2 linked regions of the Homo sapiens genome follow. The protein of the gene in region 1 purifies or fractionates together with the protein of each later gene. This does not show direct contact. Each region holds a gene or a part of one and is shown on either strand. Other genes may lie near its edges.

Region 1 (3,811 bases):
ATAAAATGAGAAGTTTTATCCGATACAATTGCATACCAATATTTGCATATCTGAAGGGAATTGGGTAACAAAAGTTTAGGGAAGGAGAAGGGGGGAGCTCCATGATATTATATTAATTTTTGTATTCTCTCTCCCCCCTCCAAAAAATTCCCATAACTTTGGTCTTTTATCTTTGACTTTAATAAAATAATGATTCCTTGAGAAAATGGGGTATAAATCTTCATTTTGGAGGCAATTAAAGTGTTGATTTCATTCATGCCCCTAAGCGATTCTTGTAATTTGCTCAAATAGCTTTATGTACCCAGCACTCCGGAGCTTTTAGAATCCCATTTTCCAGTTAGGCTTGTTGGATTGCAATTTTTATTCCACAGCAGCTACTCGAGGGTTCCTCAGCAGAATCGGCACTCAACAGCTCCCGGGCCAGGGCTGGCGGGCTGAACCAGACGTGAGGCCCGGGCCGCCCGCGGGGGCCAAGGCTGGGAGCCGCCTGCAGTTTTCCCACTTCTGTGGGGCCGCACTGGGATTGCGCACGCTGCGTGTTCTGTGCAATGGACTACACTGCCGAAAGTTTCCAACTCTCCAGATCACAGTGCGGACCCGGCGCATTGGCACTTTTAAATCTCTGCTCTGCCTGTTTCTCGCTCCCCATGGGCAAAAGAGGAATTCAGCCCATGTCGCGGGGATTGCCCAGAGAAAATCAAGCTGAGAATGTATTTTAAGAGGATGATGTTGAGAGAAGAAAACCATAAGATGACACTAAGAACCAGGCGTCAGGCGCTCGACAAGGACTGTACAAGACAGCCACTGGCCAACAGAGATCATGGCAGAGCTTGCAGAGTAGCTGGCCTTTGGCTTAACAAAGGCAGGCTGATCTCTTCCCCCAAATCTGGACTCACGTGCCGAGTCAGAAAGAGAAACAACACTGGGACTTCACTTATATAGGGGGGAAGGGTGGGAGGGTGCAGAGCAGGCCAGCTACCCAAATCTCTAGACGCCTTGCAACAATTCGCAACGGAACTGTTCTGAGCCCTGTTTCATCTCACTCACTCTACACGTTTTCACTTTCATTGCATTTTTGCAACTCCTTTGGACCAATCCAGAGATACAGCCACAGGAGAGAGAGAGGCACCCTGGGAGCAAACGGTGGTGTTGGGGTGACAGAGAGAGAGAAATCCCCACAGCAATTCCAAATAAAAGTCGTCCCCACTTAGTAACGCATCGGAAGAAGGGCCTGGAGGGAAGACAGGAGAGGAGAGGGTGCAGCAAGCCAAGGCCCTCAGTTGAGAGCAAAGGCGGTGCGAGGTCCCCCACACTCCTTACCCAGGGAGCCGCCGGGGTGCCCCTGATGCTGATATGTCCACAAGCTGCCAACCCAGAGGGCCCAGAGCACATACCAGCTGGAGGATGAGTGGAAAGAAGGAGGAGAAAAGTCCATATTTATCTGTTTTTATAACCTCGGCCTGGTCTTATTTTTTCTATTAAGTACAATAAAATGGGTGAGCTTGCAGTGAACACCACACAAAGCAATGTTCAGTGAGGTCTAGAAGCGTTCGGCCGAGGAAAACTGACAAGACAGGCTAATGAACCGTACAGACAGGGAGAAAATAGCCAGCATTTGCTAGATTTCAAACTCTCGCTGTCTTTCTTAGACCACCTATCTTGGATTTATTCCTAATAAAATAAGAAATAAGCAGACCCTACACTTGTCTTTTCTTGAAGATAGAAGGGGGAAAAATGCTCCGGAACAAAGCCCCTACAATCAGAGGCGGTCACTGGCAGTTAACACTCCCATTATTATAGAGGGTAAATAAAATAAAGACAAAAATTAAAAGCGACAAGAAACAGGTCAAGTTTGCTAGCAAAGCTTTTACAAGCTCATCTCTTCAGGTCGAATCCCAGAGCCAGCCTTAATGAAGCAATAATAGCCACATTATTCAAAAATTTTCATTTCGATGGAAATGTATCTAAAAGGGACTTAATCATATGCAAATAATAAAAGGAGGTGGTAGTGACCCAGCAAGCAATATGCATACAGATTTTTTTTTTTCCCAGGGATGTTGAAATTGAAAAGCGCATACCTGGTCAGTTAGATTTGCTGATCTTGTTATATCTTCACTGTCTGATTTTGATCCTCCTTCTCTATCGTCTATCACCAAATCGATAGGCATTTTCCCTTTCAAACAGCTAATATACCGGTGGCAGAAATTGTCACATAATTCGTGTACCTACATTATGACAGAAATAAAAAAATGGGAATATAATCAGGAGTGCATAAATGACATTGACAAGTGCAATCCACCCCCCTTGTGAGATCCAAACTTCCAAATAGGGGAAACACAGGGCAATTGTCCTCCAGAGACCCCCAGACGCATCCAGAATTAGGAATAACTTTCTTTTCTTGCAAAATAGAGATATCCCAGAAAATTGACAGTGACAAGATGATTCACAGGCTACAACATATTCAACACCCGTGTTAAATTCATCTGCTCCTGGGGCTGTGGTCATTAGAGAGGTGACCTGCGTAGGTGACATTTAAGGTAAACTATTTAATTTCATCCAGTGACTTTATCATAAATCCCTTTCTAATGTGTCTAAGAAAAAAATGTATACGTGTGTATATATGCACATATATATTCTCCAAAGAACCTGTACTGTGGTGGCATAGGATAAATGCCTGACAACCCAAGTCCTTATTATATTTGTAATGAAGGTTTTTATCTCTAAGGGGTATATTTTAGAAAACTTTCTTTGAAAAAAAAATGGAAGGAAATCAAGTTGCCAGTACTCCTGATATGGGAAAACATACAGCCACACAAAAACATATCAAATTGATTTTTTTTTTTTTTTTTTTTTTTTACAAAAAGGAGAAGGAATGCCTCAAAATATTTAAGTGTAAGTGCAGAGGTTTCCTAGAGGTCCCAGGCATCACTGACATGCAAAAATTCACAAGAAACCCCAGTGTGCTTGCAATTTAATGTTAGTTTGAATTACAATGCATTAAGTTTTTATTGCTGAGATTTATAGAACAGCTAGCAAAATCATGTTATCCCACACCCTTTCTTGAGTGTGAAGGTGGAGTGTGTGCAGGATTCACAGATTCAAGAAATTGACACAACTATCAACTCTGCTTTGTCTCTGCAAAACGTTTAATGTGCCTCCCCACCACCTCCTCCAGACTCCTTCCCGCTCCTCCTCCTTCTCCCCTTCTGCCTCTCCCCTGTGTCTGATCTGCCCTTGCTCTCAAGACTGTCTTCCAGAAACTCACTACAACTGAATAAAACTTTTTTCTCCCTCAGAGGTAGCAAAGAAGAGAAGGAAGAGGATGAGAAGAGACAACAGAGGTATGAACTTGTGAAACAACCTCAGAGCAGCATTCGAAACATCAGCTGGGATGCACAGAATTGCAACTATTTACACAAAGCCAGCAAGTTATTAAGAATGAACACAAGGCTAGGGCGTTTGTGATCCCAGTTTTAGTGGCTGAAATTGTAATTAAACTGCGAAGAGAAATGGACGCTAAGATTGGCCTTGACACTAATTACCAGAAAGAAAGACATTTATGCAAATGTATCAGAAGGCTGAACTTCAGCCATTCGGAACCCTCCCCCCTGTGTGTTTGGGGGTAAGGGGTAAGTAAAAGGAAAAGAGGCTAGAGAAATTACCTTCTCTAATTCCAATAGATGAAACCTTAATACTTGTATGGCTTGAATCATCTGCAAAGATACAAAAACAATAAGCACCCCATTCCTGGCTTGCAGAAAACTGGCTGCCACAGCTCTACCATCTCCAGCCCACCCCCTCCCACCAGTAA
Region 2 (3,811 bases), on another chromosome or scaffold:
AAATGTACATACCCACGCATGCACACATGCACACACATTCACATGCATGCACACCCATGCAGGTGCACACCACATACACCCGCACCCACCCACTTGTGCACACCCACAACCCACACACACACACCGCCATGGGCAGGGAAAACCCAAGGCTGCCTCCTGTTCCCGGCTCTCGCTGACTGTGTGCCCTGGGCAGGTCCCCTGGCTCTCTAAGCCCCTAAGTCTGCAGCCCAGCAGGTCTGGCCCACCTCTGGGGGTGGGGACTGAGTGAAGGCCATCTTGCTGGTAGCCCAGGCTCCCAGCATGGCGCAGTCACTATCCCTGCCCTGCTGCAGGACAAACCTGCCTGGGTTATGCCATCTGAGACCTGCAAGGGGCAGTCACTTCCTCCACCTGCTCGAGGGACGAAAGGCCCGGGCATCTCACTGCTATGACCCAGAACTTTCAGAGGCAGGTCGGGCCAGGCCAGGCCCCGGATTCAGACCACTCTCTTGTCCTAGCACGGCCCAGCCATGCTGTGTGCCTGCAGACAACTTGCCTGACCTGTCTGAGCCAGTCACTGAATGAGGCCCAGCCTGACCGGTCCAGGGCCTATAATTGCTGTCTCCCCCATGTCCTTGGTGGCGCCTTCTGGGCAGTTTGGGGTAGGGCTTGAGTCCAGGTGGGGCGGGGTGGGGTAGGGCGGGGGGTGGCGGTGAGCTCGCCTGCGTGGGTGATGGAGGTGCCAGCACTGTTACTTAGGGATGGCTGACTTGGGCCTTCCTGGAGTTGGAAAGGACAAAGGGATCAGAGGGAGATTCTCATTTGGGTGAGTCTGTGCAAAAACTCAAGAGTCCCCCCTCAACCCCAGGAGGCTAGAAGTCCTTGAAGTGGGGGCAGGAAGCCGTCTTTGTTGTGTGAGGGTGCTGGACATGGACAGCCTGACCCAAGAGCCCTAGAAGGGCCGTCCCTGCACCTGGCCCAGACACCCTGTGACTCCAAGAACCACCCAGCTCCAAGGCGAGGCCCCACCTTGGGAGCCTCCCCCAGGACCTGCTGTGTTTCCACCAAAGAAAGGACTTGGGCACTCTTCCACCCAGGGGCCGTGGGTGGTCCCCTCCGTGAGGTCAGAGCAGCTTGGGAACATGGGTGTCTACCCACAGGCTCACCTGCCTGCCCCACCCAGCTCAGGCGGCTGTTCTTTGCAGAGCACACAATGTTTGGAGGACATTTAGCCTGGGGCTGGCAGTCGGGGTCAAGTGGGAGGACTCATTGTGCCCGGAACACAAGTCCCTGTTTCCCTGGATGTGGCCCAATGCAGCTGTTTGCCACCCAGCCCGCGCCGCTGGAGCAAGCAGGTGGTCTGGACAGTCAGGAAGGTTTGTGGGTACAGGGTTAAAGCCCAGCCTTTGTCTGCCTGAGCCGGCCCTAGGCAGAAAAGTCCAATGGTCTGAGCTGCAGCCCCCAGCCCTGGGCCCCAGGCGCTGTGCCCAACGGGCTGCCGCCTCTTGGACTGGCCTCGTCTTTCCTTCTCTGATAAGCTCACGTCATCCCCGGCCCCCGGCCTGCGCCCTGGCCCTGAGAACGCCGTACTCTTCTTGCCTCCTAGGAAGCCTGGCTTCAGGTGGGAGGGGCCAGAGAGGCCAAGAAGGGGTGCTCGGCAGTTAAACATGGGGTGGCCCACCTTGGGTGGAATCTGGGGCCAGCCACCTGCTCGTGCCTCAGTTTCTCCATCTCTACAGGGAGTGACAGTCTCAGTTTGATTCCAAGGGGTAGCCCCGTGGAGAGGTGGGCCCAGGCAGCGTTCGCTGGGGTTCTGACCCCTGGCCCATGCAGCAGGTAACCCGACTGTTCTGCAGCCCCCGGGCTGTCCTCTACAAGACCCCCAGTCAGGCCCCGAGGGACCCCACCCTGGGCTTACCGAGGCGATGTCGATCCCCATCGATGGCTGGCCAGGGTTCTCTGGGGGGGACTGGGGGAGAGAGGACGGTACCGTGACTGCAAGCGGGGGCGGCTGTGGCCCACGAGTCAGGCTGGCGCTGGGCAACAGGGGGCCACCAGGGGGCAGGCGGACGGGCGCCTGTGGGGGTGGCGGGGGTGGTGGCTGCTGGGACGCGGGTGGAGGAGGCGGCGGGGGCTGGGGCTGCGGCGGTGGCTGCTGGGAGCCCGCCTGGGTGAAGAAGGCGTAGGGCAGCTGCTGCTCCAGAGACAGGGCGTCCATGGCTACAGCCTGCAGGAGAGGAGAGCGTCAGGCAGGGCGGGCCCTGGTTGTCAGCGCCTGGCCCCCTCGGGCCCCCATAGCCTGGCATGCTCAGCAGGCGAGGTGGAAGGGCCCTGTGATCACAGGCAGCCCCTGGGCTGGGTGCTCCTCACGATGAGGGAGCCCAGGCTAGAGAGGGTGGGCCTCACGCAGGGCCCCAAGGGGGTCAGCTGGAGCTGGGCAGGACCTGACCTCCTCCAGCTTGTTGTGCCTGCACCCGCACTACATGCCGTGCAGCTCAGGCCAGTCCACCAGCTGCAGGGCAAGCCCAGGATGGCCATCCCTGGTGGCTCAGTGAGCAGCCAGCTCCCAGCCCCTGTGGGTGCTGCGGGGAAACCTCAAGTGATCCACTGGCCTTGCCTTCCCAAACCCCCCCGCCCAAAGCCTTGCCCACTCTGGGGATGCTGGAGAGGCTGGGGTTGCTGGAGATACCAGCATGGCCCCTCACCAAGGGCTGGCTCAGGCCTTCGCAGAGCTGGAAAGAGGAAAATCAATAAGAGGGAAGTGTGTGACGTTCACTGTCTGTGTGGAAACTCACAGCCAGGGGCTACCAAGCTGACAGTCCTTGGGAAAGGTGGGGTCCCTGCCCTCTAAGAAAGGCTGAGCGTGCCCAGGAGCTATGGAACAAAAACCACTTAGCAGGATGCCCGGCCTCTGAGGACCAGTGGGTCATTTGTGAAGAGAAAGGAGTTTCCAGATAGAGGGAAGGGGCAGGTGTCAGATTAAGACAGCCTAGCTCACAAAGTGGCTGAAGACACAGCTGCCAGGAGCCAGCGCCCACAGCTCTGTCTGGATCTTGATCTGAATAAGACACCTTTGTAAGCAGACAGGAGACATGGGGGCCGAGGGGCGGGGAGAAATGGAGTCCGGGCCGGGCATTGCCAGGTACCAAGGAACTACCATTAACTTCGTTGTAGGTGGACAATGCCACTGTGGTTACATTAAAAACAAACAAGTGACGGGCGCGGTGGCTCACACCTGCAATCCCAGCACTTCGGAAAGCTGAGACAGGGTGATCACTTGAGGTTGGGAGTTTGAGACCAGCCTGGTCAACAAGACGAAACTCTGTCTCTACTAAAAATACAAAACTCAGCTGGGCATGGTAGGCACATGCCTGTAATCCCAGCTACTTGGGAGGCTAGCACGAAAATCGCTTGAACCTGGGAGGCAGAGGCTGCAGGAGAGCCAAGAGCACGCCACTGCACTCCAGCCTGGGCGACAGAGTGAGACTCTGTCTCAAAAAAAAAATTAAATTAAAATTAAAAAATAAAAAAATTTTAAAAATGTCAAAGTTCTCTGTTAGGGTTTTTTTGTTTTGTTTTTAAAAAGACAAAATGGATAAATTTCTAGAAATGCACAAATGACCAAAACTGACTCAAGAAAAAACAGAAAACCTGAATAGCCTTATAAGAAGGAGATGAGATTGGAAACTTCCCAACACATTTGAGCTAAGACACAGGTGGCTGCACTGGTGAATTTTACCAAACCTGGGACTACAGGAATTTACCATTACACCCGCCTAATTTTACCAAACTTTTAAAGAGGAATTAAAAATACTTCCAAAAAATAGAAGAG

The links.
Region 2: the proteins of MEIS1 (region 1) and CRTC1 purify together in Homo sapiens (affinity purification with western blotting; one study listed by BioGRID and IntAct). This does not show direct contact.

The regions. Positions count from the first base shown.
Region 1 is NC_000002.12:66,441,316-66,445,126, reverse strand, and holds part of MEIS1 (homeobox protein Meis1), read right to left. Parts: intron 3,714-3,811; coding exon 3,663-3,713; intron 2,226-3,662; coding exon 2,079-2,225; intron 1-2,078. UniProt on the Homo sapiens protein: Acts as a transcriptional regulator of PAX6. Acts as a transcriptional activator of PF4 in complex with PBX1 or PBX2. Required for hematopoiesis, megakaryocyte lineage development and vascular patterning.
Region 2 is NC_000019.10:18,766,880-18,770,690, reverse strand, and holds part of CRTC1 (CREB-regulated transcription coactivator 1), read right to left. Parts: intron 2,207-3,811; coding exon 1,898-2,206; intron 1-1,897. UniProt on the Homo sapiens protein: Transcriptional coactivator for CREB1 which activates transcription through both consensus and variant cAMP response element (CRE) sites.